Regions from separate parts of the Homo sapiens genome. Here region 1 is linked to region 2. The links come from fine-mapping of genetic effects on gene expression. A gene starts in region 2. The other region holds a variant in brackets. All regions are shown on one strand. Distances are between the middles of the regions. Region 1 holds the start of SLC22A15 (solute carrier family 22 member 15). Region 2 holds the start of LINC01649 (long intergenic non-protein coding RNA 1649).

Evidence for each region. PIP is the estimated chance that this variant, and not a neighbour inherited with it, causes the effect.
Region 1: its variant is fine-mapped to the expression of LINC01649 in prefrontal cortex (CommonMind, PIP 0.95).

What each region holds. Positions count from the first base shown.
Region 1 is chr1:115,969,513-115,984,789 of GRCh38, forward strand. It overlaps SLC22A15 (solute carrier family 22 member 15), which reads left to right and starts at 7,001. Exons shown (of 12, transcript NM_018420.3): 1 at 7,001-7,202. The coding sequence starts at 7,116. LOC101928977 (a long non-coding RNA gene) reads right to left here and starts at 7,764. Exons shown (of 5, transcript NR_125970.1): 1 at 7,585-7,764. RefSeq lists silencers at 6,848-7,077, 7,138-7,387. The variant C/T (reference allele first, on the strand shown) is at 7,824.
Region 2 is chr1:115,911,371-115,926,647 of GRCh38, forward strand. It overlaps LINC01649 (long intergenic non-protein coding RNA 1649), which reads left to right and starts at 8,006. Exons shown (of 3, transcript NR_125969.1): 1 at 8,006-8,189; 2 at 10,997-11,075; 3 at 13,406-14,538. It overlaps LOC101928977 (a long non-coding RNA gene), which reads right to left. Exons shown (of 5, transcript NR_125970.1): 3 at 13,443-13,640; 4 at 12,701-12,782; 5 at 11,203-11,242. It also overlaps the pseudogene LOC101928952.

The sequences.
Region 1 (15,277 bases), 58 kb after region 2:
AAAAATGGTAAGCTGGAGAAAATATGCTCTCAAAAATGGAACTCTTTGCTAAGAGCCACAGATGCAATACCTTGAACCTCAGGAGAGCTTTAATTAGTCCAGCTCTTCCTTGAGCGCATGCTCAGAAGCTTTGGTGCTGACTGTAAATTAGGGCAAGGAAATCCAGCAGGGGCCTGGGTGGGTTAAGGGGGAAGGGCAGAATCTTAAAGGGGCAATGACCATTTAAAGGAGCAATGCCTGTCAGCCCCACCGTTCTTGTTGTAGGCTCCTCAACCTGCCACCACAAACCTAATTCAACTTCTGTGTTCCCTGTCTCAGTTAATAGCACCTCCACTCCCCAAGTCTGGCTACAATGACTAAACATGGGAGTTGTTCATGATTTCTCCCTTTTTTGCACCTGCAAAATGTCAATTTTGCTGATTTTTACCTTAAATTTGACTTCATTTTTCCATTCCTGTTATCATTGTTCTGTTTTAAGCCCTCATTGGGTCCTGTTTGGGCCATTACAATAATGTCTAACTGGTGTTATATGCATTTTCCGCTGCTGCCAAATCATCTTTTAAAACTCACATCACTCCGACTTAAAACACTTCAGTGGTTCCCATCACCTGTAGGAAAAAGTTCCAGCCCCTTCCTGGTCTCTGTCAATTCATCAGACGTCATTTCAGATTGCATTTTCTGTTCTCACAATCATCAATTACTTCTGGCATATAGATCCCAATACAAGGTAAATAAACACTGAATATGTAGAAGAGTTTTTGACCCACTTAAAAACATATATTTTTAGGGAGTAAGACGAACTAATCTAATATCTAATTAACACTTAATTTGTTAATTGTATGTCATATAAAATATTAATTTATATATTTTTTCACTCAAATGCATCATGATGTCAAAGAAAAATCCTCAAAAGTTAAAAACATGACTCTCTTACCAATATAGAATTAATCTATGTCAAAGCTTTTATTGCCTTCAATAATTGATGAGGGAACCAGCAGGATGATAAACTGGTTCTAAGAGCATTTGAAGAAATTATTATTTACACACAAAAAAGAATGCTAGAACAGGATTGTTAGATTAGATACAAAACCCGTTAATGTCCCACAGGGTAATGAAATCATAGATTATCCTTCTAACTGAAGATAATCACTTACATCTCTACCACATACTAAAAAAATCTGTAAGTTGACAACTCACTGCACAGTGCCTGAGCTCTTATTAATAGAGTAAATAGTAAAGTCAAATGCAGGAGCATTCTCCTACAGCATTAAATAATCCTGGGGGCAGATCTGTTAAACAATGCTCCATTACTGCATTAAAAAACACACCCACGGCTGGGCACAGTGGCTCACGCCTGTAATCCCAGCACTTTGGGAGGCCGAGGCAGGCGCATCACCTGAGGTCAGGAGTTTGAGACCAGCCTGGTCAACATGGTCTCTACTAAAAATAAAAAATTAGCCAGGCATGGTGGCATGTGCCTGTAATCCCAGCTACTTGGGAGGTTGAGGCATGAGAATCGCTTGAACCTGGGAGGCGGAGGTTGCAGTGAGCCAAGATGGCACCACTGCACTCCAGCCTGGGTGACAGACCGAGACTCCATCTCAAGAAAACAAACAAACAAACAAACAAAAAACCACACCCACCTCTTCTTGCTGTCTTATTATTTCCAAGTTTAGGATAATTTTGCTTAACAATGAAAGTAAAACTTCACATGAATCTTCTACATCAGTGTTTTTGGCATCATGATCGTCTCTTCTTGGGTCAACTAACAAAGTTTTCCAGAACACAACATCTTTAGGTCCTTCTAAGTTTTCTCAGATACAGTACCCTTGGGATCTTGTGTACGTTTTTATCCACTTTGAAAAGGAGATATATATCTTATATAATATAAACACTGTGGAAAAGTGCATAGTTCTGTGGATGTTAAAAATGTAGGAATAGCTATCAAAATAATAATAATCTGTAGCTCTTCAAAAAAGCAAAAGAGAGAAAGGCGGTATAAAAATAGCTTTAACAATCTAACAGTTGGCCATAAAGGAAAAAGAAGATGATAAACAGAAAACAAAATAAGTTGGTAGAAATAATTTCTGATATACCGCTCCCAATAAATACAAACGGATTTAACTCATCTATTACAAGACAAAGATGGCCGGGCGTGGTGGCTCACGCCTCTAATCCTAGCACTTTGGGAGGCCAAGGCAGGTGGATCATGAGGTCAGGAGATTGAGACCATCCTGGCCAACATGGTGAAACCCCGTCTCTATTAAAAATACAAACGTTAGCTGAGCGTGGTGGCGTGTGCCAGTAATTCCAGCTACTCAGGAGGCTGAGGCAGGAGAATCACTTGAACCAGGGAGTTGGAGGTTGCAGTAAGCCGAGATCGTGCCACTGCACTCCAGCCTGGTGACAGAGTGAGACTCGGTCTCAAAAAATAAATAAATAAATAAATAAATAAATAAATAAATTAAATAAATAAATAAATAAAATAAAAATAAATAAATAAAATAAATAAAAGATAGACACTATCAACCTGGATGGAAAAAAGAAGTCCTCCTTTCATAAACATGCTGCTATGGTCTGAATGTTAGTGTCTGTCTTAGTCTATCTGTGCTACTCTGACCGAATATCACTGACTTGGTCATTTATAAAGAAAATAAATTTGTTTATTACAGTTCTAGAGGCTGGGAAGCCTAAGATTAAGGTGCTAGCAGGTTTGTTGTCTGGTGAGGGCTGCACTGTCCAAAGAGGAGGAACATTATATCCTCACATGGCAGAAGGTGGAAGGGCAAACGGGACAAATTCCCTTGTCATGCCATTTTATAAGGGCACCTAATCCCATTTATGAGGGCAGAACCCTCATGAGTAATTTACTTCCCAAAGGCCACACTTCCCAATACTGTTGCATTGGAAATGTCTGAATTCTGGAGGGAAACATATTCAAACCATAGCATTCTGCCCCTGCCCCCTCACCCAAATTCATGTCCTTCTCACACAAAAATACATTTATTTCATGTCAATAGCCCCTAAAATCTTAGCTCATTCCAGCATCAACTTTATAAAGTCTAAAGTCCAGAGATATGGGAACCAATGCATGGTTCATCCTGAGGCAAATTCCTCCCCAGCTGTAAACTTGTGAAATCAAACAAGTTATGTGCTATCAAAACAATAGTGTACAGGCATAGGATAGACACTGCTATTCCAAAAGGGAGAAATAGGAAAGAAGAAAGGGGTAACAGGTCCTAAGTAAGTCTAAAACCCAACAGGGAAACCCTGTCTGGTTGCTTTGCTAGCAGCAGTCCCCACTTCACTTCTCACTGGCTAGGGTCACTGCACACCTCCCAATACTCTTGCATTGAGAACATCTGAATTTTGGAGGGGAAACATTCAAATGACAGCAGTGTCCCCCTAAATTAGTGTTGGAACCTAATACCAAATGTGATAGTATTAAAAAGTAGGGCCCTTGAGAAGTGATTAAATCATGAGGGCTCCATCCTCATGAATGGGATTAATGCTCCCATAAAAGACTCTGGAGAGCTCTCTTGTCCTCCTACTGTAAAGATGCGACAAGAAGGTGACATCTTTGAAGCAGAAAGCAGTCCTTCATCAGACACCAAATCTACCGGTGCCTTGATTTTAGACTGCCCAGCCTCCAGAACTGTGAGCAATAAATTTCTGTTGTTTATGAATTACCCAGTCTAAGGTATTTTGTTATAGGAGCCAAAATAGACTAAGACATATGCCTTAAGCAGAAAGAAACTTACAGGATGAACATAAAAAGACTATATAAGAATAAAAAGATTACAAGGAAAATACAAACAACAGAAAAGGTGATGCAACAATATTGATATGAGACAAAGTAAAAAAGACCAAAAGCACTAAAAAGAGCTATTTCATCACGATAAAAAAGATTCAACTAGTACCTTTATGAGCACACAGAGACAAAAAGAGAACTTGATAAACTCAAAAATGATATTAATTTTGGAAAATTTTGATATATTAAAAACTGATACATTCAGCACAGAAAAATTAAGTAATAATATAGACTACTTAAATAAAATTAGATCAACAAGTTTGATTAATAGTTAGAGAATCTTGCACACAACAAGTGGAGAATATATGTTATTTCAATACACGTGGAACATTGAAAAAAAAAAAAGGCTACGGGCTGGGCATGGTGACTTACACCTGTAATCCCAGCACTCTGAGAGGCTGAGGCGGGTGGATCACTTGAGGTCAGGAGTTTGAGATCAACTTGTGCAACATGGCAAAACCCCATTTCTACAAAAAATAAAAATGAGCCATGGTGGTGTCTGCCTATAGTTCTACCTACCTGGGAGGCTGAGGTGGAAGGATCACCTGAGCTGGGGAGATTAAGGCTGCAGTGAGATGTGATCAAGCCACTGCACTGCAGCCTGGGTGACAGAGAAAGATACTGTCAAAAAAAAAAAAAAAAGAATAAAAAGAGAAAAATCACATATTAGGTCACAAAAAATTAAAACAATTTCCAAGATTTAATATAATCTCTGTCTACAAAGCATATAAATTATAAACAACACTAAAAAGATGGTAAAAAAAATAGCAACCTTTAATTGGAAACAAAAAATGCACTAAAAATAGCTCATTGGTTAAAGAAGAAATGACAATGTCATGAAATATTTAAAAGTAAAGACAACAAAAGTACCACATGACAAAACTTGTCGGATGGAGCAAAGTCCTATAGAAAGGTAAGTACAACCTTAAATATAATTATTTTATTTATTTATTTATTTCTGAGACAGAGTCTTGCTCTGTTGCCCAGGTTGGAGTGTAATGGCACAATCTCAGCTCACTGCAACCTCCTTCTCCCAGGTTCAAGTGATTCTCCTGCCTCAGCCTCCTGAGTAGCTGGGACTATAGGCCTGTGCCACCACGTCCGGCTAATTTTTGTATTTTTAGTAGAGACGGAGTTTCACCATGTTTGCCAGGCTGGACTTGAACTCCTAACCTCAGGTGATCCACCAGCTTTGGCCTCCCAAAGTGCTGGGATTACAGGCGTGAGCCACTGAGCCCAGCCACACATAATTATTCTTCAAAAAGAAATATTAAAAGCAAAGAAGCTAAACTTCAAGTCATGTGGCTAGTAAAAGAATTACAAAGTAACAAAAGTAAAAAAAAAAAAAGGAAAGAATTCATATAATCAATGAAATAAAAAAATTCACAAAACTTTTTAAAAAATAATAAAGTAGACAAACCTCTGGCAAGACTGATAAGATTGGAACAATAAAGATGAACACTATTCAGAATGAAAAATGGGACATAAACAGTTAGACCCTTATTTTTAAAAATCCCAAGAAAACAATATGAACTAGTTTATTCCAAAAACAATTTCTAAACTAGATAAAATAGAAACATTTCTAGAAAAAAAGTGGTTCAAGAAGAAATGCAAAGACATACGAATATATCTAGTTATACACACCTATTTATCTTTACCCATTATCTATAAATCTGTAATAAAGAGGCTCCCCCTGCAAAACAAGCTAAGTCTAGATGGTTGCAGGAGAGTTTTACCAAACACTCACACTCATGTTATGAAAGCACTATAAAATCTTACTGCCAAATCTAGACATAAGCATCAGGAAGAAAAGAAAATTATAGGCCTAGTTCGCTAGTCACAGATGTAAAGTCCCTAGACAAAACACTAGCAAATTAAATTTGGCAATAAATAGCAATATCGTGAGCAAGTATTAATAGGATTTATTCCAGTAAAGTTCAATATCAAAAAAACTATTACCATAATGTACCCGATTATCAGATTCAAGAAGAAAAACAATAGGATCATGTCAATAAATGCAAAAAGCACTTATTAAACTTCAGCATTTATTAATAATGAGGATTCGTAGGAAACAGCCAAAGAAGGAAACTTTTTAAACTATTAATAGTACTTATACAGAAAACGTTTCCTTAAGTAAGAGAGAGAAAAAAATCTTAAGAGTTTATAGAGTTTACAGTTTCCAACCCACTGATAAATTCAATTACAGTGAGCATTCATTTAATTGCTAAAAAAAGAAAGCAGCTGACCAGTAAAGCCTAGCTACCAATACGCTGCAACAGACATCACAATTAACGGAAAATTTTGGAAGCATAAGAAGGATACTGGCAGGTCAAGGACACTAGCTGGTCGCCATTTCTATTCAATGTTAAACTAGAAGTCATGGTCTAGACAATGGAATACTATGCAGCTGTTAAAAAGACAACACATAATAAACAAAAAGGCAAATGAGGTTAGGAGGTGGAGGCATGAGGGGACTAACGCAGGTGTCCAGCGTCCCTTGGCCCTGCCACGCTTTTTTTTTTTAATTTCCACCTGACAAACTGCCGTTTATCCTTTAAATACCTTGGCAGCCATCACATCCTGCCCCTTCGTCTTTTGCACTTCCTTTGTACCTCGTGCATACTTCTATAAGCAAATGTATCCGACGGTTTTACAAGAATTTGCTTGCCTACCAGTGTACTTAACCCATGGCTAGCACAGAATAGGACTGGAAAGAAATGCTGCACAGACAGCACTTTTCTCTGAAGGCTCTAGGGCTCCCCAAGCCCCCGCATTAAACTGGTTTGGGCAAAACGACAGGCATTGCTGAGAGCCGCCAGGCCGCCCGCCAGCTGCGGGTCCCCTGTAGGCAGAGCCCTGGGTCACACGCGGACGCGGTCCCGATGTTTCTTCTCAGGCCCTCAGCCCGGCCCACTTCCTCTTTCCTCACTTTAAGGCGCAGACAGCGGTCCCTCTCAAAACAAAACGTACACCAAAACACCATTTTTTTTTTAAACAGGAAGTCCAGAGGCCCGGGTCCAGGGCATCCAGCCCCGGATCTCGAACGCCCTCCTCGCCCCTCGCCCCGCGTAGCCCGGCTGCGCTCCCCGCTCCCCGCCCGGCGTCCACCTCTCGAGCCTGACAGCCCCGCCGCCCGCGCAGGCGCCCCGCCCCGGCCCGGCCCGCCCCGGCCCCGCCGCCAGCGCTTCCATCCCCGCCCCGGCGGGTCCAAGCCGGTGCCGGGCGCCCAGGGGTTGCCGCGCTGGGCGGGAGGGCAGCGCCTGAGAGGGCGGTGGGGTGGCGGGGTTCCTGCGCGCGGCCCGCCATGGAGGTGGAGGAGGCGTTCCAGGCGGTGGGGGAGATGGGCATCTACCAGATGTACTTGTGCTTCCTGCTGGCCGTGCTGCTGCAGGTAAGTCCCCGCGGCCCCGCAGCCGCATTTCCCTCTTCAGGGCCGCCCGGCGCAGGGCTAGGCGTCCGCTCCCAGACCGCCGGGGCCGGGGCCGAGGCCGAGGCTCTGCAAACACCGAGGTGTGGCGAGCGTCGGGGTGGGGCAGGGGCGAGGCGCCGCGCGGTGGCCTGGGCCCGGCCGGCAGCGTCAAGGTCGCCGGCCGGCCTCAGAGCCTCTTGGGTTCTGCTGGGCCCTCCACCCCGCCACCTTGAGTGGTGGAAGGAGCGTGTTGGGGGAGGTTTCTCAGCCGCTATGCTGGTTAAGGAGGGATGCAAAATTGTGTTACCTGCCCTACGCTGTTGCCTATAACACGCTGCAAATATGAAGGGAATTGTTACCCTACCTGTGGCACTGTCACCTTGGAATCTAGGACACAGTCTTGATAATCTGCAGACAAAAGGTTGTGTCTAGGATCGCCTCCCTCTGCGCCGGGTGTCCTCTGCCTCTTTTCCTGGGCTTGAGGGGGCTTACTCTTCTAGGGGCTTTCAAAGCATAGGATTTATTTCCCTCTGGTTTAAGTTCTGCTGGCTCATTCGGCCCTGCGCCAGCCTTGGGCTGAGACTCCCGTGAGCCGAATAGTGC[C/T]ATCTACCATGTGTGGTTATCAAATGGAATCACTTCTTCATTATAAAGAATTCTCAGAACCTACTTGTACACCCCAGCCTCAAAATATCGATTCCATATGCGAAAGGTCACTACAGATTAACTGCGCCAGGCAAGGATTAGTCCTTCACCAACTTAAATGGCTCATTTGACATTAGTCGCTTCTCTCAATATGCCAGAGGCATTTCATTCACAAATCCTTTCTTAGTATTTGCTGTGAGCCAGCCATTTTACTCTTTCCTTCAGTCATCAGGTTTAATACGGGCTAGGATGTGCTGAACATAGGGATGCCATGGTGGACAAATCATTGACTGCCCTCAGGAGCTTGCATTCCAGTGGCTGCGGGTGGGGCAGGCAGACAGTTAAGTAATTTAGTTAGCATGTGATGATAGTTATTCTGCAGGAAGTACAGAGTGGTCATGGATATAGCCACCAGTCCACAAGTTGCTTAAAGCTTGCATAAGACAGTGGCTCAACAGGAAGATGGGGGAAGGTAGGGGTTGACTTATTGATTAAAATGTTTGGAAGTTCAGTTGATTTCATCATCAGCCAGAAACGGTTCAAATGATGGAGTCAGTTCTTTTTCTAGCCGAACAGTTCTCAGCTCACGAATATGTGGTATTCTGAAGTTCTTTTAAGCTCGTTGTTTTAGCTTTAAACAAGCTTTCCCCAGGGAGAAAAAACGTTCAAGCTAAATGATAAGAGTATTTAATACCGAGAAAGAAGAATTGCAACCATGATGCCTGATCTTTATTTATAACAGTTTCTTTGAGAAAACCCTTTTTTTCTGTTCCAGCCATGAATTCCAGGAACATACATCCTTTCTTGAACAATCCCAGCTCCCCATCCCTCTATCCCTACCCTTCACTTCCTGTTATCATTTTCTTATTTGCCTAGCCAAGTATCCACTAACTTGGAGTAAGTTTGTCTTCAGTAGAGTGAGGTTCTAAAAAGGCCAGTGTTCTCGGTTTAGGACCTGTTAAGTTTCTCTAACTTACTTTTATTTATGGTTGACCCAGTTAGTTAGAGTTTGCTATCAAAAAGTTCCAAGCCCATGCCTATGACCGTTCACTAAACCTTGGATGATTTATGGTCAGTATTTGCGGTACAAGGACCAGGTCTTAGAGTGTTGGGGATGAGTGACTGATTGTTTATCTTATAGATGTGGGTGGGAAGATGCCCTGTAGCTGTGCTTATACCAGTGGAGGAGATGCCAGCCTAGGCAAAAGTGAATCCTTCACATGCTACGTGTTTTTAAGGACTCAGTTACCCCATTGAGATACATGATCCAGGGGGTTGTAGAGCCACCCAGAGCTACCCTGGGTATGAGAGTGGATATCCCCAAAGACCTCTCTACCAAGTCTGTTGTTGGAGATGTTTTGTATTACGGCAGCTGGTCTGTGGAGTGGGAGTACTGTGGAGTCCCATTGCTCAGTTGTATCACAGGTGATTTCATCATTCTTGGGGATGAGGTTTTGCTTCCCCCAGCAGAGTAAGAAGCCCTTTTTACACAGTTGCCTTAAATGAAAGGGGGTTTTTCTGCTTTTAAAATCAAAGGAGTTTTCGTACCATTGCCCAAGGAAGGGGCAGACCAACAACACAGCAACAAGGCCAGAGAGAGGGAGCCTCTGCTTCAGTGGGAGCCTTCTCCCCATCTGCGATTTGATAATGATTAACCCCAGCTGAGAGGCACAAAACCAGAAGGACAGAGGTGGAAATTTTACAGGCCTTTTAACATTTTCCTTCTTCTGGGACCATTATTATTATTTTTAAAAATGATTTTCCCTTTACCCCAAACACATCTATGTTCAAACTAAGAGGACAAAACCACATAGCAAAGCCAATTCTAAAGGGTTTTTGGTTAACTGTTTTCTTGAATTATTGGTACCATCATGTAGATCATCAAAAGTTACTTCACTATCCAGTTTCCTTTGGCTAGGAGACTTGCCCTCATACTCCTTGCAAACACAATTTTTGGAATCTCAATAGCATTCAACTTTGAGATAACTAAAGAACAGATGCAGATTTTGCAGATTTTTCCTCAGCGTAAGATGCAAATGCCCTGAAAATGGTGATATGTGGTATTAATGTACATAAACAAAAAGTGAAGGGAAAAAGATTGCCTATGTAAAAATGGTTGACTTATGAATAAACAATAAGCTTTACAGTTAGAAACATTCTTACCATCAAAATGTACTTGCTCTCCCTAGGATCAGAGCTATCTGCGATATTTAAATAGGAATAATTCTATTTAGCATATTACTGTTTCTCTTCTGATGGTGATTCCGAGTTGCTGCCATCGTCACTATTTTGTGTTTGTGTATGTGTTTGCTTGTTGTCTAGGCTCTCTGGAGGAGGAGGGTTGGAATACAATTCATTGTTTCTTGATTCCTTTAGACATGCAATGAAAATGGACGTTACTTCTTTGTTCTAAGCCAGAGGCTCCTGCTTTGTCATTTTCCTCAAAATCATGAATCGTACATTATATTATAATTTGCACAGAATTTAAAGCCCCCATTTACTATCAGGAACATGTAATCTATAACAAGCATTCACCAGCAAAATTGTGATGCTGTGCTATGAATCTCATCTTAGATTCTGGTGTTCAGGAATGCATTATTTTTATATATATATTAAGTATATATATATACTTAATAACCTTATTTTTTAGATCCTGGAATGACCAGTGCATTAATATTATCCATGCAATAAATAGCTTTTCTCAGCATTTTAGAAAGTAGAATGATTGCAGAAGAGGAAACTGTAATAGTCAACACACGAAAAGATGTTTTAACTTCAGTGGTCATCTGGGACAGGCATATTAAAATGGATATGAAATACCATTTCACACTTGCTATATTAGCAAACATTAAACAATCTAACAGTACAAGTGTGATGAAATGATAAATAGAAACTATACCCCATTTAGAGAACAATTTGGCACCATCTAGTAGAATTAAAACCTAGCATTGAACTCCTAGGTACACATCCCACATTGTCCCTTGAGCACGTGCATAGGGAGATATGTGTAAGATGTTTACTGCAACACTGTCTATTATAACAAAAGTTAGAACCACCTGACTTTCAAAACAAGACTGGATAAGATGTGGTATAAATTTAATAGAATACAACGTCTGAAATAAATGAACTAGATCTATATATGACTATATGGAGGAATTTCTAAAACACAATGTTAAGTGAAAAAAAAGCAGAACAGTGTATACTATGTGACACATATTCTTAATACAAATTTTAAAAACACACAAACCAATGCTATATTTGTTTCATAAATATATATAAACAGTATAGAAATATAAGAACATGGAGTAGAAAGATCCACACCCAATTCATGAGATTGGTTGCCTCTTGGGAAGGAAGGGAAGGGGTGGGCTTAGGGGAGGGTACAAAGGAGATTGCATCTGTTATCATTTGTTAATTGTGATAGTAGTTTCATGAATCTTATTTTTTGCTTTTCCATATTAAATATTTTTAAGTGAAAAGATGGTAAAGGGAAGAAGATATGCATATCTAAGAGAGAATACTATAGTTTGCTGTATGAGAATAATGGTTCATTCTTTTTTAAAAATCAATATTCCTTTGATCAATTATGGCTGTGAATTGTGGTCCTTTAAACACAGGAGGGTGGGGTAGAGTGAGTTTTATTCAGCCTGTTTTGTTAAACTTCATGTAGAATGCTATCACAGCTTACCTTCCCTATCTGCTTATACGTGGCACCATGTCCCTCCACAGGAAATTCTTAGGTCTGATGAGATATGGCTGAGATCATAGCTGGTTCTTCTAACCTCCCTGGCATAAGCAAGTGATGAAGTTCACACCATAAGCATTAGTGAAGCTCTTGTTCAGTTATAAAAGACTAACTGTCATCCCCAGGATGTTCTCACCATCACTGAGGCTTCAGCCATGATGAGAACCTATGGTCTTACTAAGACCCTTTCATGAGTCCAAAACATGTGGCCATTTACCAGGGCTCTCTGTCAGTTTGAGCAAGTTTTATGCAGCTCCTACTGTCAAATTTTATTTCAATTAGCCCTCACACAGTGGCCTGGAGGTTGGGTCTCCTGAGGGTTTATGGTGATCTGGGAACTTTTGCCTTTCACCAGTTTAGGTGGGTGGGGCAAAGAGACAAACACAGTGGTTTGGTCAAAGAAACCAAACCCACACTGGCCCCCACACCCTCAGGAAAACTGTTGTTGTCCATAGACAGACACTGCCCCCTAGTGTAAAGCAGATAAAGTTGTTGATCTATTAGACAGATTTTCCTCCAGGGAGGCTGTAGAGATACAGGAGGCCTCCAGAAGGGTTAAGGAGCTCCTTTGAGCCTGGATGTCTCAAGAATTAGGACATTCCATGGAAAGCAACTAGACTGATACCTCTGCAGCACCCAAACCCCCAGCCGAATGCCTTCCAAGGCCATCCCTGGCTGTTTGACTTGTGCCTTGACAGTGAAGGTATTATCTTCCAAGATAGCACAAAAATAGTCATTAAAGTCACGAGGACAGGCAATGTGAATATGGCAGAAAGAACACTAGGCTTGAATGTTGTGCTACTCTGCTGCAAGATGGCATTATTAGGCAATTGTTATTAGGCAAATGACCCATCAGTCTCTACTGTGCACTTGGAAATGGCTGGATCACGAAAGTTTAATTTGTTTTGCAAGTTTAGGATTTCTCAGAGTTTCCCAATGCCCAACAATTAATTGGCCTTGGGGCAGTGTTGACCCTAGGTTTCAGAATACCAGCTTGGTTCATAACCACAATTAGAGGTTGCCTTAGAAGAAAAAGACTCTCAAATCCAAAGATGCACACAGCTCGGGACTCTCCTCTCTGACTTCTTTGACCAAACACTCATGCAAATTGATATCTGCCTTCATGGGACATCATATAGTACTCAACAAATGGCATATGGTGATTGTAGAAAAAAGAGAAAATATAGAAATTAATACAAATCACTAGTGATTCTACCACCCTAAAGTAAAGCATGCTCACATTTTGGTGTATAGCCTTCCAGACTCTTTATTATATAAATATTGTATATCCATCTTTTTTGCAGAAATGTGTATCATAACTGCATTTTGTCTCTCAGCAATGTTGTGAATGCGTTGCTATGCATGTAAAGGAACAACTACATATTTTTTAGTGGCTGTAGCATGGTATTTCAATATATGGCCATAGTATAATTTGCTATTCAGTTCTCTTGTGTTGCATATGTTATGCTTCCTCTTTTTCAAGTTCACAAACCCACGCAGCCCATGGTATTGGTTCTTTCTTCTGTTCTGACCTTTACTTCTTGCCAGTTGATTGTTTATCAGTCTTCTCAAGCCCAGACTTCTCCTGATTCCATTCATATAGTTCTACCTAGATGCTTTTTGTCCCAACTTCATGGATAAAATAGAGGTTAGCTGGTGTAAATTTTCTAAACATCGTTTCCTTTTACTTCAAAAGTTTTTTTCATCCTCACCTATCTTAAATACCTTCTCTGTTAGGGAACATGTCCAAGAGGAAGACATGTTTCTGCCCTCTTGCTAGGGATATCTTTTCACTTTTGTTTTTGATTCTATGTAATCCATCAGTTATTTCTAATCCTATCTCTTTCTGCATTCTCTGCAGAATAGCCTGCATGGTAGATATATGGAAATTGTATTAAATAGCATTAACTCTTAATAAGTGATAGAGTTATGCCCTTCTGGAGCCTTCTTTAGTTGTGTTTATCTAAGGAGAAAGTCTCATTTGGTGTTAGCACTTCTAAAAACATTTCCAAATATTTCTGTTTTAACAAAGGGAATGAGCTAGCATGAAAGAATTAGAGGAGCTTCAGTAGAAAACATTATCTAGTTGGAACTTAATATTATTCTGTTTTATTGTATTTATTCATTTTCTTTTAAAACTTCTTTTAAAATTATGAGACATTTCTGATGGAAAAATACAGAGAGTAATATGACAAACGCACATGTACTTGCTTCCAGATTTAATAAATGCAGATATTTTGCCTTATTTGTTTAATGTTGTGTCAGTCATAGTTCTACTGGAGAAGCAGGACCCCTAGGATGGAGATGTGTGTGTGTGTGTGCACGCGCACATGTGTGTGTATGTGTGTTTATGTAAGATTATATATGTATAATCGATGCATCATTCATTATGGAGATTTGACTGTATACTGTTGCGGGAGCTCGTTCAGCAGGCCCTGTAAGGCTGTTGTCTTCGTGTGTGATGTTGGAGCTTGAAGTCTGCAGGACAGGCAGTCGAGAAGGGAAGATATGATCTGGAGCCCATCAGAAGTGACTGGAATCTGTGTCATTCTCCCTGCCTCCAACCTTGATGAAGTGGCTGCCTTTCATCATAGAATTAAACATGTACCTGGGCAAGGAGTCAGAGCAGCTGAAGGAGGATCCATGGGAAGGTGGAGTGGTTGCAGCCTCGTGACTGTGCCACGCCAATGAGGTGGACCAGCACATAAGTGGTAAGCTATGTGAGGCACTAAGGCACCTGCCCCAACCTGGGCATAAAATGCAAAAACAGCTGCTCTTTCACTTTCACCCCTCTCCCAAATCTAGCCTGAAAATGTCTCCTGTGGCCCACCTTAAATAAAAACATACTAGCTAACACTTGGCATTCTAACATTGTGCATATTTTTGTAGTTCCACCTGCCAAGTGATGTCTGAATTGATATAAAATTCTATTTTATGTTAATTTACTAAAATTAAAACATTTGAATTGATTTTAAAGAAGACTATTGAGTAAATACTAGCAGACAGAAAATGGGCATGTGAAAACTAGCAAGGGGTACTCAGATGACTGAAGTTAGGGAAAAGCTGAGCTAGCCATATAATTCTTCCCAGTTATGTAAAGATATATTCTTTACTTTCCTGACTCTGATTGGGCTATTGCTTTACCAAATAATTTCTTTTCCTGAGTTTTGTTTTCATTAACTCCTTAGCAGCCTTTACTACCTGCTCAAGTATCATATTAACAACCTTTTCCTGATTCTCCTAGGTGGAATTCACATCTCCATTCTTTGTGCTCTCATGAACTTCATTCCCAGTATGGCTAATATAGCATTCATCACAATCCACCTTGTATTTACAGCTTTGGATATACAGTCATGCCCCACATAACAATGTTTCTGTCAATAATCACATATGCGACACTGGGCCCATAAGATCATAATGGAGCTGAAAAATTCCTATTGCCTAGTATTTCCTGTGCTATATTTTTAATTGTTATTTTAGAGTGTACTCCTTCTACTTGCAAAAAAAAGTTAACTGTAAACCAGCCTCAGGCAGATTCTTCGGGAGACAGTCCAGAAGAAGGCATGGTGTGATAGGAGATGAGGGTTCCATGTCTTCAGGATGTTGTTTTCCTGAAGACCTTCCATTGGGACAAGATGTGGAGGCAGAGACAGTGGTATTGATCCTGACT
Region 2 (15,277 bases):
CAGGGTTGACTCTTGGGAGGGAGAATAAAACCTAGAGCTAAAGAGAAGAAAAAAAAAAGCATGTGACACAATGTCTGTCAGCAGCTGTGCTGCCAAAAGTCACCCAACAGGAAGAGCAGGCAGCCAGCGAGATGGAAACTGCCAGTGCAATAAAGCATCAGTGAGAGTCAGGGCTGACTGGGGCTGTGGATAAAACTGGAGCACACCTGGGACCAAGGAATAGCATAGTCCCTCCCAGTGTGACTCGAGCATCAGCATACAAATTGTCAGGCCCAACTTGGAGCAAAATTAGCATCAGTCACCTGATAATAGTAATGGTTACCCTACCCTTACAGATGGTAGCTCATATGACCATAAGATGTTGACCAGTGAAATGCACTCAGCCAGCCAAGACTTGGGCTGCCGCATGCCACATAATCTTTGTGGCTCTTGGTTTTTCATTCCAATAAAACTTTTTTGACCTCTGTAGAAAGCTGTAACCCATACAAAAGCTCTTATGACCATTTAGGAATTCATAAGATTTTTGGAAAATTCTACATTGTCTTCCTAAGTCCCCCATGTTCCTCAAGTGCCACCTGTGGTTGATCTTCCCAGGTGAATTGGAACAATGTACCCAGAGCACCCCTCCTCTGGCCCCACCCTGAAGGATGGAGGTCTCGGAAATCTGTAATGGGTGAGCGGACTTGTAGTCCTTACTCGGGGGTGTACAGATGTGCACAGAGAGCTGGCCTCTGAGAGCATCCCTTGCAGCTAAAGGCCACTGCCTGGCTCAAGTCCATCCACATCAGCAAATCTGCATGTTGTAGTTCTACAGAGACTGCTGCTCTTGATCTAATTAATAGTTTCTTTGTTTGCATAATTTTCCACAGGAAGGACTATTAGCACATCAAAAGGATGTTAAAAGTATCCTCCGTAATGATAGAGTAAATACAAACCTAGTTTATCACGTTGTCAGTTTTAACAAACACCACTTTGATGTGCTAACCTTTTCCCAGGAGGTGCCCCTCTTAAGTCAATAGCCAGCAACAGGCCCAGCCTGTGAACTAGTTGATGGTGAAAAACCAAAACAATCTCTGTAACGATATATATTTTTTAAATTCCAAAATATCTGAAAAATGCTGGAGGCATGTGTTTACTTTCCCTTCCTCCCTCCTCCGATTTAAAAGCTTTTGTAGAAAACCTGTGGGACTGATAGCACTTTTCTTCACACCTCAAGGGAGCAGTTTGAAAAATGTTTTCAGAACACTTACTTTCATAACACTCCAGGGAAAGAAAGAAAGGTGGGTCATTTACATAAAGTTAAGGATTTCTGTATACCCCGTTTCTGTCCTTCCTCTCAAAGAAAAGAGAGGGGGAACACCAAATCTCCTTGAAACTTTAAGAGCCCTCTGAGGTTTAACTCAAGAAAGAAAATGCCTCTGAAGGCAGACAGCAGAGAATGAGAGTATGACCAAGCGCCTCAGCTGTCCAAAACACCTCAAGGTGCAGGTTAAACCCAATAACGGTGATCCTATCATGGGACGGGATTGGCAAAGGCTCCTTCTGTATGGAAAGTATACTCAGTAAAATCACTCAGGCCTTTCAGTGGGAAGTTTGGCAGCTAAGTCCTGTGGAATGTTTTCAGTAACTAAAATTTAACTCCCTTAGCTTAAACAAATTATTTATTTAGTCACCTACATACTACATTCAGGCTCATTTTCTTAGGCAGAAGATACTGAACATAATTTTAACTTCTTTTTTATGGTTATTGATTGGCATGAGACTTGTCTTATTACCTGCAGGCTGGAGAAATAAGTTCAGAAACTAACAAAATATCACTGAGGCAACTAGAATGACATGACTACTGAAGTAAAAGGATACATAGGATCTGTTTCCATTACTCCTTCTTATGAGGAGTCTGATTATGTCTGTCATTTTCCTCCCCCAGGAAGCCCATGTGCCTCAGGAGAATCTGTCCCGAGCCCTTCTTCCCACCTAGACTGTATTCCAGGGGAGGCCTGATTTGGTCATCTCAGTGCTTTGTCAGTGGTTGGTTGAGAAATGATCATGTGAATAAAAAAAAAAAAGAACAGAAATGATCATGTGATATGTGATACTTTGGGCCAATGAGGCAAAAGGAAAGGTATTCTAGGAGCCTCTGGGGAAAATTTCCTTGTTCATCAGGGACAGCCATGGGAACAGTCTCTGAACATTGCTATCCACAGATGTGAGGCCATCTACTACAGCTGCCTGGCTGAGGATGAAGCTGTGAGTTGGGAAATGGATGAGCTAAGAGAACTACCGGGAAATGGGGCCGCAGTACGTGACTCCATCAACCTGAAAGCCTGAAATACCTCTGGACTTCAGCTTTGTGAGCCATCTATTATCTTATTTTAGAAGCCAGTTTGAATTTTCTGTTGCATACACATAAAGAAATCGTAACTCATACAAGTTGTCAACAACGAAGAACTTCTACATAGTGCTAATAATGAAAATTTTAAACACTGCCTTTATAAAAAAAGAATGTAATATTGACAAATGGGTGAAAAGATGATCAACTGTATTGTAATAGAAGTAAGAGGACTTCCTCTAAAGTGTGAGTGACTATATTATGAAACTGTTGAGCACTAAGCCTAAGAGACTGTCATCATATGGGGTAGTTTGAATAAGACCAAGAAAAATGATCTAAATTATTAGAAACAGAGATCTACCATGGTCATACTTAAACTTAGCATGTGACCTTTTGAAGAGAATAAGTAGATACGACATGGGGTACAGTTTAAAACAGTCCTCAAGATGCCCTGGTCAAGAGACCAGAGACTGTTCTAGAGGTTCTAACAATAAGAATACAGTTTCAAATGGAGCGGCATGGGCTGGAGGATGGTCAGCCTAATTTGTGTACACCAAGACCAGTTTTGTACATAAATAAAAATGGAAAGCTCCAAGGAATTGGGAAAATGTCCTTTCCCCATCTGAAATACTTCCCCAAATGCCTGCTGACTGAAATTATGTTAACTCTGGAATAAAGACACTCCTTTAACAAGAGGTAAATGACCTCAAATGCAAATTTCCACAGGAGCACTAATATGGTACTAAAAACTTGGCCATGCTAATGTGAACGTTTGTTTACTTTCTGTCTCAATATCTCCAGACTATAACCTTTGTGAGGCAGAGATATTTTTGTCCTTTTCACTGCTTTATCCCTAGTAAAGGACTAAGTGCCTAAAATGGTGCCTAGTCTTTTGTATATGCAAAATAAACATTTGTGAATGAATGAATGGCAAATATCTGAGCCTTTACCAAGAGCAAACTTTTATAGGAAGGAAGGAAAATCTCCACAGAGCACTATATGACTGAAAGAGATAAAAGGAAAAGTGAACCCTAAAGAAGTGAAAGGGGCAAGAAAATGAACAAAAGATGGGAAAGATTATATTTTTTCTTACTTCATTTAGTCTAAGACAGGCCCTGATTGAGTTCCCACACTAGATCCCGTGTCAAGGAGTTGGAAGACTCTGACATTCTAAGGATAGAGAATCACAGTATTTGAGCCATGCAGCAGAACCAGATTGCATCTTCACTCTCCATTGGCCCACCTGTCTCTTGTTCTCCAAATAGTAATTCCCTCCCCAAACTCCAGAGGTGAATTTATCATAAAGCTCAAGCTTCACTGCACCTCAAATTGATAGGAGGAACCCTAGCAGTGTATTTACTTGCCATATGTTTTGGCAAAACTTGTACAAGTGGGATTTTGTAGTCACAATAGGTGAGACTGTTGTCTCTTTGTACTCCAACTTCTCCTTATATCAGGTGGCATCCAAGGGGCTGCAGACATTCTGGGGAGGGGGGGCAGCTAAGGCAAGTAGAATTGGAGATACGTTCTTTTGGGCTGAATGCTGTTACAGGAATGGCTTTCAGGAAGATACCAACAGCCCACTGTGGAAACTCACCTGGTGTCATAACATAAAGGGGCATATCTAAAGGTTAAATCACAATATGAATACATCCGAGACCCTAGTAGAGGAAATGCAAGGTTTGAAATGGATTGGAACCAGAAGCTGGTCTGTGGAAAATTCTTTCCAATCAATTGTAGCAGAGGATTTAGTTTCTATTGACACCTAATTGAAAGGAAGTTCTCTCCTATTGGGAATGCACATGCAGATGCAGTGTACATGATTGTGTTTTTGTACTATACAATAAAACTATTTTTCATAGATTTACATATAAAGTCAATAGAAATAATTCTGATATCTAGCAGTAAACTGTAACAAAAAACAGTTGGGTGTGGTGGCTCATGCCTGTAATTCTTACACTTTGGGAGGCCGAGGCCAGGAGTTTGAGACCAGCCTGCACAACATAGTGAGACCCTATCTCTACCAAAAATTTCAAAATTAGCCTGGCACGGTGGTGTGTGCCTGTAGTCTCAGCTACTCAGGAGGCTGAGACAGGAGGATCACTTGAACCTGTGAATTTGAAGATGGAGTGAGCTATGATTTTGCCACTGCTCTCCAGCCTGGGCAACAGAATGAGACCCTGTCTCTAAAAAATATTTTTTTAAAAAAGTATCATTTCCAGCCGGGCACAGTGGTTCACGCCTCTAATCCCAGCACTTTGGGAGGCTGAGGGGGATGGATCACGAGGCCAGGAGTTTGAGACCAGCCTGACCAACATGGTGAAACCTCATCTCTACTAAAAATACAAAAGTTAGCTGAGCGTGGTGCCGTGCCTGTAATTCCAGCTACTCAGGAGGATCGCTTGAACTTGGGAGGCAGAGGTTGCAGTGAGCCGAGATTGCGCCATTGCACTCCAGCCTGGGCGACAGAGTGAGACTCCGTCTCAAAAAAAAAAATTCAAAATTAGTAAATCATTAAGAGGAAGAGATAAATTGCCAATAGAAATAATAAATAGGCTTTTATATTATTTAATGATCTAATCAATAAAAAAGAATGAGTTATACGAATATATTTGTAAAATATTTAAATTTATAATTAGACAGGAATGTTTATATTGACAAAGATAATATAAACCATAATACACCATTAGAAGGAGGACATAGATCACAAATTAGTTAATAGTGAATGCCATCAATTCATAGCATATTTAAGATTAGTCATTGAGAGACTGAAATGCCACCTCATCGCAGGAGGCGCCTGGCAGGGATGGAGCTGGTGCGGGCCTGGAAGTAGATGTCCTGGTTCTACTACCAACACCTGCTGGTCACAATGCTCTACATGCTGGAGCCCGAGGAGCGGAAGGTGCTCAATTCCACGCTGGTTTCCATTGATACGCAGGATACATCTTCATGACCCAGCACATCATGGCGATATTGCACTACTTTGAAATTGTACAATAACCAAGATTAGAGGTTCCTTGGGGAAGACCCACCCTACGAAGTTGGAATGACACCATCAGATGTGATAAGAAACTCTTCTAAATGTCAACCTAACCAACCTAAAATTCATGAGTAGAACAGGAAAATCACCGACTCATGTGTTGTGTTCTATATTTTTCATTTTAAAAGAAGCTCTTGCATAGTAGCTTTTGTCTATTTTAACATTGCAGCCATTTGTACTTTGATATCACTATTTTCTTTTCTTTTTTTTTTTTTTTTTTTTTTTTTTTTTTTTGAGATGGAGTTTCACTCTTGTTACGCAGGCTGGAGTGCAATGGTGCAATCTCGGCTCACTGCAACCTCTGCCTCCCAGGTTCAAGCAATTCTCCTGCCTCAGCCTCCCTAGTAGCTGGGATTACAGGCATGTGCCACCACGCCCAACTAATTTTGTATTTTTAGTAAAGATGGGGTTTCTCCATGTTGGTCAGGCTGGTATCAAACTCCCGAACTCAGGTGATCTGCCGGCCTCAGCCTCCCGAAGTGCTGGGATTACAGGCGTGAGCCACGGTGCCCAGGTGACATCACTATTTTCTTAACCTTTGTGACTGTTTCAATATTACCCCCATGAAAGCTTTTTTTTATGTACCTTTGAGTACATTATAATTGTCTTATATTTTAAAGTCATTAGTTGGGCTTTACTGTTCTTGCTATTGTATGACATATACATCTGCCTGGATATATTTTTACTCTTGACCAAAGTTTTATAAGAACAATATAAGATTTAGGGTAGGGGCATGGGGAGGAAGGATATTTTATTAAGAACTACTTAAAAGAACTACTTGCTGGGCACGGTGGCTCACACCTGTAATCCCAGCACTTTGGAAGGCTGAGGCAGGCGGATCACAAGGTTAGGAGATCGAGGCCATCCTGGCTAACACAGTGAAACCCTGTCTCTCCTAAAAATACAAAAAAATTAACTGGGTGTGGTGGCGGGCGCCCGTAGTCCCAGCTACTTGGGAGGCTGAGGCGGGAGAATGGGTGTGAACCCAGGAGGCGGAGCTTGCAGTGAGCCGAGATCATGTCACTGCACTCCAGCCTGGGTGACAGGGCGAGACTGTCTCAAAAAAAAAAAAAAAAAAAAAAAAAGAACTACATATATCAAAATATATTTTATTAAGAGCTACTTATCTGTAAGCTTGAACTCACAAGTATAGTTTTAGCTATCTAGACTCTAACAGCTTTTGCTTTAAAACTATTAAAGCATTTGTGGTTTTTTTGTTTTGTTTTTGTTTTTTTCTTTTTTGAGACCAGAGTCTTGCTCTGTTGCCCAGGCTGGATCTCGGCTGCAACCTCCACCTCCCGGGTTCAAGTGATTCTCCTGCCTCAACCTCCCAAGTAGCTGGGATTACAGGCACCCGCAACCACACTTGGCTAATTTTTGTATTTTTAGTAGAGACGGGGTTTCACCATGTTGGTCAGGCTGGTCTCGAACTCCTGACCTCGTGATCTGCCCGCCTCAGCCTCCCAAAGTGCTGGGATTACAGGCATGAGCCACCGCACCTCGCCGGGTAATGATTCTTGAGACAAGAGGTGGTTAAGTAGCATTATTATGTAATGTTTATATACCATGGAGTTTTTACAAGAAGATAAATCTATTTCCTCTGAGGGCCACTATTAACAATGTACTTCCTTAAATTTAGTTAAGTGATCGTAATACGTGCTGCATTTGCACATTGCATTAAGTTATGATGAGCTGAATTGTTACAAATTATAGCAAAAAGAAGTGTAAACTTGGCTAAAATCCTTCCATTCTTTGTATTTTTTTAAAGATTTTTATTCCTTAAATGCAAAATGACTACCTAATTTTTTTATGTAAATTCATTAAATTCAAAGAGAAAAAAAGATTAGTCATTGAACAGTAACAACAACGAAAACAAATTAGAGATACTCTGAAATCTTAGAGTTCACATATGACAAAAATTTGATGGAAATTTCCTAAAACTGTGATCCCAAGCATTTATGTGATAGTACAAATAATGAGTTATGAAGCTCACAGAAACTTTTCCAAATTCTTAATGAAAAACAAATTTGATCAACCATGCTACTGGAAAGACTAATCTATCTTTATATGTACCCTCTTGATAGAAAATACTACAAAAATCTTTGTTATATGAAGTCGTGACCCAAGAATATATAGAGCCAAAAAATGAAGGCATAATTATATAGGGGTGTCAGGGCAATTAAGTACCATGTATATATATATATTTTTAATTTTGTGATTCTTGTGGCAGTTAAATATTTTTAAAATGTGTAATTGATAGCAATTTCTTTTCTCACTTTAAATCAACACTCAAACCTAATTTTGTATAAATATTCTTGTCATCTTTTTCTTTTAAAAAGCCTCTAAAATTATGTAAGCTTCAGACCCCAAAAGGAGTAACTTATCAAGAGGAAAAGATCCTAGATTCACTTCTGCTTCTACTTATTCTACTTCTGGATTTATTAAACCATTACTCAGATTTTAAAACACACCACACACAAAGAAAAGTTTCTAAAATAAATGAGCTAACATGGATTTTTTTCATATTCTCCATCTTCTTGATAGCCCAGAGATCCTGATACTCTTTGGACTTTGGTAGTGGAATGGTAGATGTGTGTTGAGAATGGAAGGGAGTTAAGGATGGGGTTCTAGAATTCAGATGCCCTCTTAGGGTTTGAAATGTGGGGGAAAAAAAAAGAGAATCACTGCTTATCTTAGTCTGTTCGGGTAGCTGTAACAAAATACCATACCTGAGTGACTTACAAGTAATAGAAATGTTATTTCTCACATTTCTGGAGTCTGGGAAGCCCAAGATCAAGGTGCTAGCAGATTTGGTGTCTGGTAAGGGCTAACTTCCTTGTTCAAAAATGGTGCCTTCTTGCTGTGTCCTCACATAGTGGAAGAGGTGAGGGAAATTTGGGGGGCAGCTCTCATAAGGACACTGATCATTCATGATGGCCTGCCTTCACGAGACTCAGTCACCTCCCAAGGGCCCCCAGTTCCTAACAGCATCACCTATGGCGGTGAGGATTTCAACATATACATTTTAGGAGGATACAAACATTCAGATGATAGGCCAGAGCACTGACCTAGGCAATGGCATCTACAGAAAAGAGAAAAATAATTTACTTTTGACTTGAGGTGTCTTGGGTTTAAATCCCAGTCCCACCACTTAATCATTTGTGACCCTGAGCCCCGTGAGCTTTGATTTCTGCACTTGTAAAAATAGGCAGAATATTAAATACCTTTAGAGTTTTTCATGAAAACTAAATGCTACCTCTGAAGTTAAATGAAATTGTAAGAATGAAATAAATAGGGCTGTTTTAAAGAGTAAATGTGCTCAGTAATTGGTGTTCTGTAAATGTTAACTTCGTTCTGAAATATATAGAGCAGGATGTCAACTTATGGAAAGAATGTAAATATTTTTTGGTTATAAATACCAATGAATTTTTCTTACAATGCCAATGGATCTATACATACTATATGGATTATATTTAAGCTTTTTGCCTTATCTTAAAGCTAATAGCAAATAGGGCAATGATGTATATGGGCAATTTACAAAAGAAGAAACAAGAATATCTGGTAACATAGCAAGAATTTTTTAACATTTTCTTGGTCATCAAACACAATATAAACAATGAGATACCATTTTGTTTCTCACACTGGCAAAGATTAAGAAGAATGAAAATGCCCACTAGCTGGTGGTAAGGCGGGAAGGGGAAGGGTACACTCATGACATTGGATAGTTGGAGTTCAAATTGGTACAGCTGTTTTGGAGATCAATTTAAAAGTAGGCCCCCTCTCCAAAAGCAAAATAAAACTTTAAAAATGTTTACTCTGCATTTAAAGCTGAAAGTATGCCTTACTCTATGATTTAGTTATGCCTCTCCTAGTTTATATTTTTTGAAGTATAAATATGTCATCCAAAAGACATGTATAAGAATATACATAACAGCTTTATTCAGAATAGCCTAAATGTCTATCAGAAAAAAATAAATCAATAAATTGTAGTTTTTTTTTTAAAGGATACTATGAAGCAATAAAAAGAATGAATTACTGCTATACTCCACAGCATGGATGAATCTCACAGACATTATGTTGAGTGAAGGAAGCCAGAAACCAAAGAATACACACTCTATGATTCCATTTATATGAAGTTCAAGAACAGGGGATAGCTATTGACTGGGAAGAGGCATGAAAAGCATTCTGGAAAATGTTTAATCCATTGATCTGGGTGGTGGTTGTACCCATTGTCTATACACTTGTAGAATTCAAATCGCAGTACACTTGAGATTTATTCACTTTGTTGTATATATGCTATACCTCAATTTAGAAGTTTTGAGAAAACATACACTTTGACTTAGCAAGTATGTTTTCATTCTAAAGAAAAAAGTCAGAGGAGTACAAAAAAGGTTTACATACAAGAATGATCACCATAGCATTATTTATAGTAGCAAAAATCTGGAAATACAATCCAATAATAAGGAAGTAGTTAAATAAAATTATGATACATCAGATAGTAGAATGCTATAATCATTAAATCAGATAAAATAGAAGAGTCAAAAATATGGAAAGTTTTTCATAATATAATGTTCCAAAAAAAAGTAGGTTAACCAAACAGTATTTAAGATTTAATACTATATTTGCTTAAAATATACATGTCTGTCTCCCTCTCTCTCTCTCTATATATATATATGTATATTACATAATCCACATGCTTATCACACGTATCTCTGACTAATGGGATTGTAGATAATTTTCCCTTTCTTTCTCTTGTTTTAAGCAGTTTTCTATATTGGACATGTCCTGTTTTGTAATCTGCAAAAATCTGAAATAAAATGTAAAAGGGAAAAATGCTAGGTGTGGTAGTGCATGCCTATAGTCCCAGCTACTAGGGAGGCTGAGGCAGAGGCTCACTTGAGCCCAGGAGTTTGAGACCAGCCTGACTGATGCAGCAAGACACCATCTCAAAAAATAAAAAATGAAAATAAATAAATAAAAAGGAGGAGAAGGCCAGGCGCGGTGGCTCATGCCTGTAATCTCAGCACTTTGGGAGGCCAAGGTGGGTGGATCATCTGAGGTTGGGAGTTCGAGACCAGCCTGGGCAACATGGTGAAACCCTGTCTCTACTAAAAATACAAAAATTAGCCAGATGTGGTGGTGCACACCTGTAATCTCAACTACTCCAGAGGCTGAGGCAGAAGAATCACCTGAACCCAGGAGGCGAAGGTTGCAGTAAGCTGAGTTTGCACTACTGCACTCCAGGCTGGGTGACAGAGTGAAAGTCCATCTCAAAAAAAAAGGTAGGGGAGGGGATTGAAAAAGAAAGAACAAGAGTGAGCAAATCAACTCTCTATATAAGTAAGCTGTTCTGAACATTTACATATTGCATTCTAGGTATGCCCTTGATGAAGGTAGTTAACCTCTCTAAGCCTCAGGTCCTCTCTGTAAAATGGGAATAATTATTGCACCTAACTTATGGTATTGTTATCTGGATTAAATTAAATATTCTGTATGTAGTGCTTAGCAGTGTCTGACATATCATAAACACTTCATCAATATTAGCCATTACATTACTCTGGGACACTGGCTAAGACCCCTAGGTTACCAGAATTGACTTAACTGCTCTTGTCTTCTTTTCACCTTAGGTATCTACTGACCTGGTTATCGCTTCTTCCTTTAAGGAGTATTAGAACACTGCTGGGGATGGGCTGACAAACATACCAGGTATTGATGCATACAGTCCCCTGAAAGGTCTCATCTGATTAGGGACATTTATTCTGAGAACCAGGTCTCAGAATTCTCTTTTGGATGCATCAAAGTCCAACCGATTCTGAGAGCCAACTTGGTGCGTATCCCTCAGAGAAGCCTTGGGGCCCGGGTTCCACACCATTCTGTATAAAAGTGGAAAGTTAGGAGACAGCTGATTCGCTTTCTCTGTAGAATTATCTTCCCACAACTCACTGTAGAGGTCTATCACACAATGGGTTTTAGTTTCTTTTTTTCCATTGCTTTCCTTGTTTTCTATTTTCATTCTTTTCTAAAATTTTCATTTCCAGAGCTGCTTCTGGGCTCTCTTCTCCCTGCGCCAACCCACCCCCACCTCCTCCCCTTTCTCCCTCCTTCCTTTTCTTTCTCGCTCTTCCTCTTCGTCTCTCTTGAGACAGGTCTAGTGGCCTGGTTGCCATCTGCTGCCTTTTTTTTTATAAGGTTGAGATCAGATGGCATCTAATCGATCGTCATGGTCTCCATGGTTACCAGGGTGACAGAGTACTTGGGAGAGACACATTCTCGAGCCTGGGGCTGTCAGACCATTCCTGAGAGGGGAAAGGAAATAAAACCCCTTCCATCATATTTACACCTTTACATCTTTCTCAAATGCAGCAAAACACAGACCCTGTTTATGTTTTACATAGTGACCTAGTGGCTTGAGGCCAGGGAATGCAGAGTGGCTTTTTTCTATTTAAAAAAATGCACAAGGACAGAAGTAAAGGGTTTTTTGTTTTTTTGTTTTTTAGCCTCAGAACCATCCCTTCCCCTCCCTGCTCCATACAGACCATCCCTTTTATCATTTTTTTTTCTTTTCCCTTTAAATGTTTGGGAATTAATTCAGTAATTCTACTGAGTTGTTATTCTTCCAATAAATCATGGTAGTTCTAAAAGTGACAATTGACAGCTATTTGCTTTAGGGAAAGAAATAACCTTCATAAAATTACCAACACTTTCACTTTTGATTAGAATCAGTGTTAATGTTAATGTTAGTTGTTCTTTGGCCAAGCATTTGTAATATAGGAAGCCATTTTTCCCACAAAGAGCAGCTTCATATGATAAAATGTAAACAAAATGACCCTTATTCTTAATGCAAAAAGTGCTTAGGCATGACTGTGGTCTGTAATGCTTTAATGCCTAGGGGCTGGCCAGTCTGGCAGAAATACATCCAGGCCTTACTCTAATAGAATATGATGGCGTTGACAGCCCAGATCTGGTGGAAAGAGACGTGAGGAAGATCTTGGTAATAAGGATATATAGCTAATGGGAAAAGGGCTAGATTTCTGGAGTAACTCAGAAATAAGAAAACAACCAATTATCATACCATTAAATAATGTTAAAATTACATAAGGAATACCATCCTTGGCATATTAAAACGCCTTTAATATTAGGCACAGATGACTTGGGCTATAAGCTGCTTTACTTCCTTTTCTGGTAATATGTTATGCTTCATAACACTTACTAGAAATTCTCCCCTTTTTTTGTGTTTGTCAGAGAAAACCGAACTTAAAATTATAGCACAGGTACAAGGCCTATCTATAGGTGATTTTTTTTTCATTTAAAGAAAAAATATAATGCCAAACCATGAGCAGTGCTTGCTTGCTTCCTTCCTTCTTTTGTCTCTGACTTCCCTTCAGACCTCCTGCATCTTCTTCTGTACAGTTCCTAGTAAGATTCAGATATATTCATTTGCAGTGCCTTTGGCTGTTAAGCAAATAGCACAGTGATATTTGAAATAGAAATGATGCCATCAATTGGAGGAGAGACTTTAATATAAAGGGAAAATAATGTATCATGAACAAAAACCTTCTTATTCATTTTGGACCTTTGCATCTTAGCTAATGCTTGCCTCTCTTTCCCTCTCTGCAATTCCTCCTATTCTCTCCCTCTTTACTGGTGAGTTCAATCATTGAATGGCTGGGGGAACTGCTTTTATTTAATTCTCACCTCCCCAGAAAAGCTTTCCCCAAATTCCCCATCACAGACTTCTGAACTCCTAGTGTTCTTTTGGTCTGTGCTTCTCATTCAGGACTTAGCTGTGTTGCCTTTCACCCCGGCTTATGTATTTGTCATGTTTATCTGTTGCCTCTTATTTACATTGTAAGCTCCAGAAAAGAGAGACCATTTCCTCTGCTTCTGGGCTTCTCCCTTACTTTGTACCTAGTTAGCTCTTACTAAATGTTTGATAAAGATAATAGCAGCCTGTTGTGCCTACAGGGCAAGCGATAGCTGTTTTTTCTTTAAAGACCAGGAACCAAATTTGATTTTTAGCATTTCTTCAACTGCAGGGATTTTACTTTGTGTCAGCCAAGAGGCTTTCCTTACCTCCTTGTCTTCAGTACTCTTGTGCACAAGCATGCTTCTCAGAGAAGGTGGATTCTACCTTGGAAGGAAATGAGTCGTTTCCTCCCATCAGGACAACTGCCACAGCATGGTGTCAACTCACTCTTGCCTTTCGTAAATTGAGTTTGTCAGTGCTCAGCGACACAGCTGAGTGAAATGTTGTGTGATGCGGGCTGTCTCCTGGGAGAGAGAAACTGGCATAAACCACATCCTAATGGGATCCAGAAACAAAGAAGCGTGAATGAAGTGTTAATTGCATTCATAAAGACATTAACAAAGGAATTAAAATGGCAGAAGCTTCAGTCCCCCACTCAAGATTCACAGAAAAATATGTTATCCAAAGAATGTTTCAACAATAATCATCAAAGTTTATTGCTTGCCCATTGGGGAAATAACTCTTGATACATATTAACTTTTCAAAGAACATTTTGGGTCCATTATTTTGAGTATATTAACTAACAGACAGTTTATTCCACCCTACCTCCAGTTCTTTGCTTGCTTTTGTATGATTTAAGTTTCAAAAAAATCCAGAGGCATTTTCAGTGCTGCTTCATTAACCATAAGGATGTCTGTTAACAGTTTGAACCTAATCAATCCTACAGTTCTTATTAGAGCAAAATGCTCATTATCTGGGAGAATTTTTGCTTTTTGAAATAAAATTACAAGACTGGGGGTTTATTTTACAGTCCCTCTTGAATATTCCTGAGATGATCTGCAATGTGGGCAACCCGGGGCTCCCTCCCCAGCCCTGTGGCAGGGCCCCCCAGCTGCTGACAGCGGGGCTAAGCTGGCAAAAGGTCAGGAGGCTGCATTTCACTGAAGATGGATCGCACAGATGAATATTGCGCTTGCTTAATGAAGTCAAGGCCACGGATTTGGGGCCTTTTATGGTTCTTCTTGTTTCACTCAATTTCACCTTCATAGACCACGCCACTAATCCCAGCCAATCATTTTGTAGATATGTGCAACTGGTGACTAAGGGACTAGATAAAAGTAAATGAATCTAAAAAACAGTGACCAGAAATTCAGAAATCTCTGTGCCTATAACAAACTCAGAATTAAAAAAAAAAAGCATGCAGAGTGAGTGTTTCGTGATCCTTGCAGAAACTCTGTGAGATATATGGAGCCGACATTCCTACCTTCATTCTGCAGGTAAGAAAGCTAAAACTCAAAGACATTAAGTAAAGTCTCAGGATTAAAATTCAGATTTTTTTAATCATCTGACTGCTCTTTCTGCTGTAGTCATCTAACCCTCCCAGGATCTCATTTAATTTTCACAAGAATCCTATGAAGTAAGACAGGCTGTATAAACAAGTGGGTTGATTTTTCCGGGAATCATTTTTTTTTTTTTTTTTTTTGAGATGGAGTCTCGCTCTGTCGCCCAGGCTGGAGTGCACTGGTGCAATCTCGGCCCACTGCAACCTCTGCCTCCCAGGTTCAAGCGATTCTCCTGCCTCAGCCTCCCGAGTAGCTGGGACTACAGGCACATGCCACTATGCCCAGCTAATTTTTGTATTTTTAGTAGAGATGGGGTTTCACCATGTTGGCCAGGATAGTCTTGATCTCTTGACCTCACGATCTGCCCACCTTGGCCTCCCAAAGTGCTAGGATTACAGGCGTGAGCCACCATGCCCAGCCTCCAGGAGCCATATTAATGCCACTAGAGGAGCAGGTGCTCTCAAGCCTCTCCTTAGAATTTGGCTGAACCCCCGGTTATCTAAAACGCTATGTTTTTCAGTCTTGTCTAAATCAATCATATTCATGGATGTGGCATCAACTCAATGGTGCGGGTTTAAAAGTGACGAAATTCTAGTTAG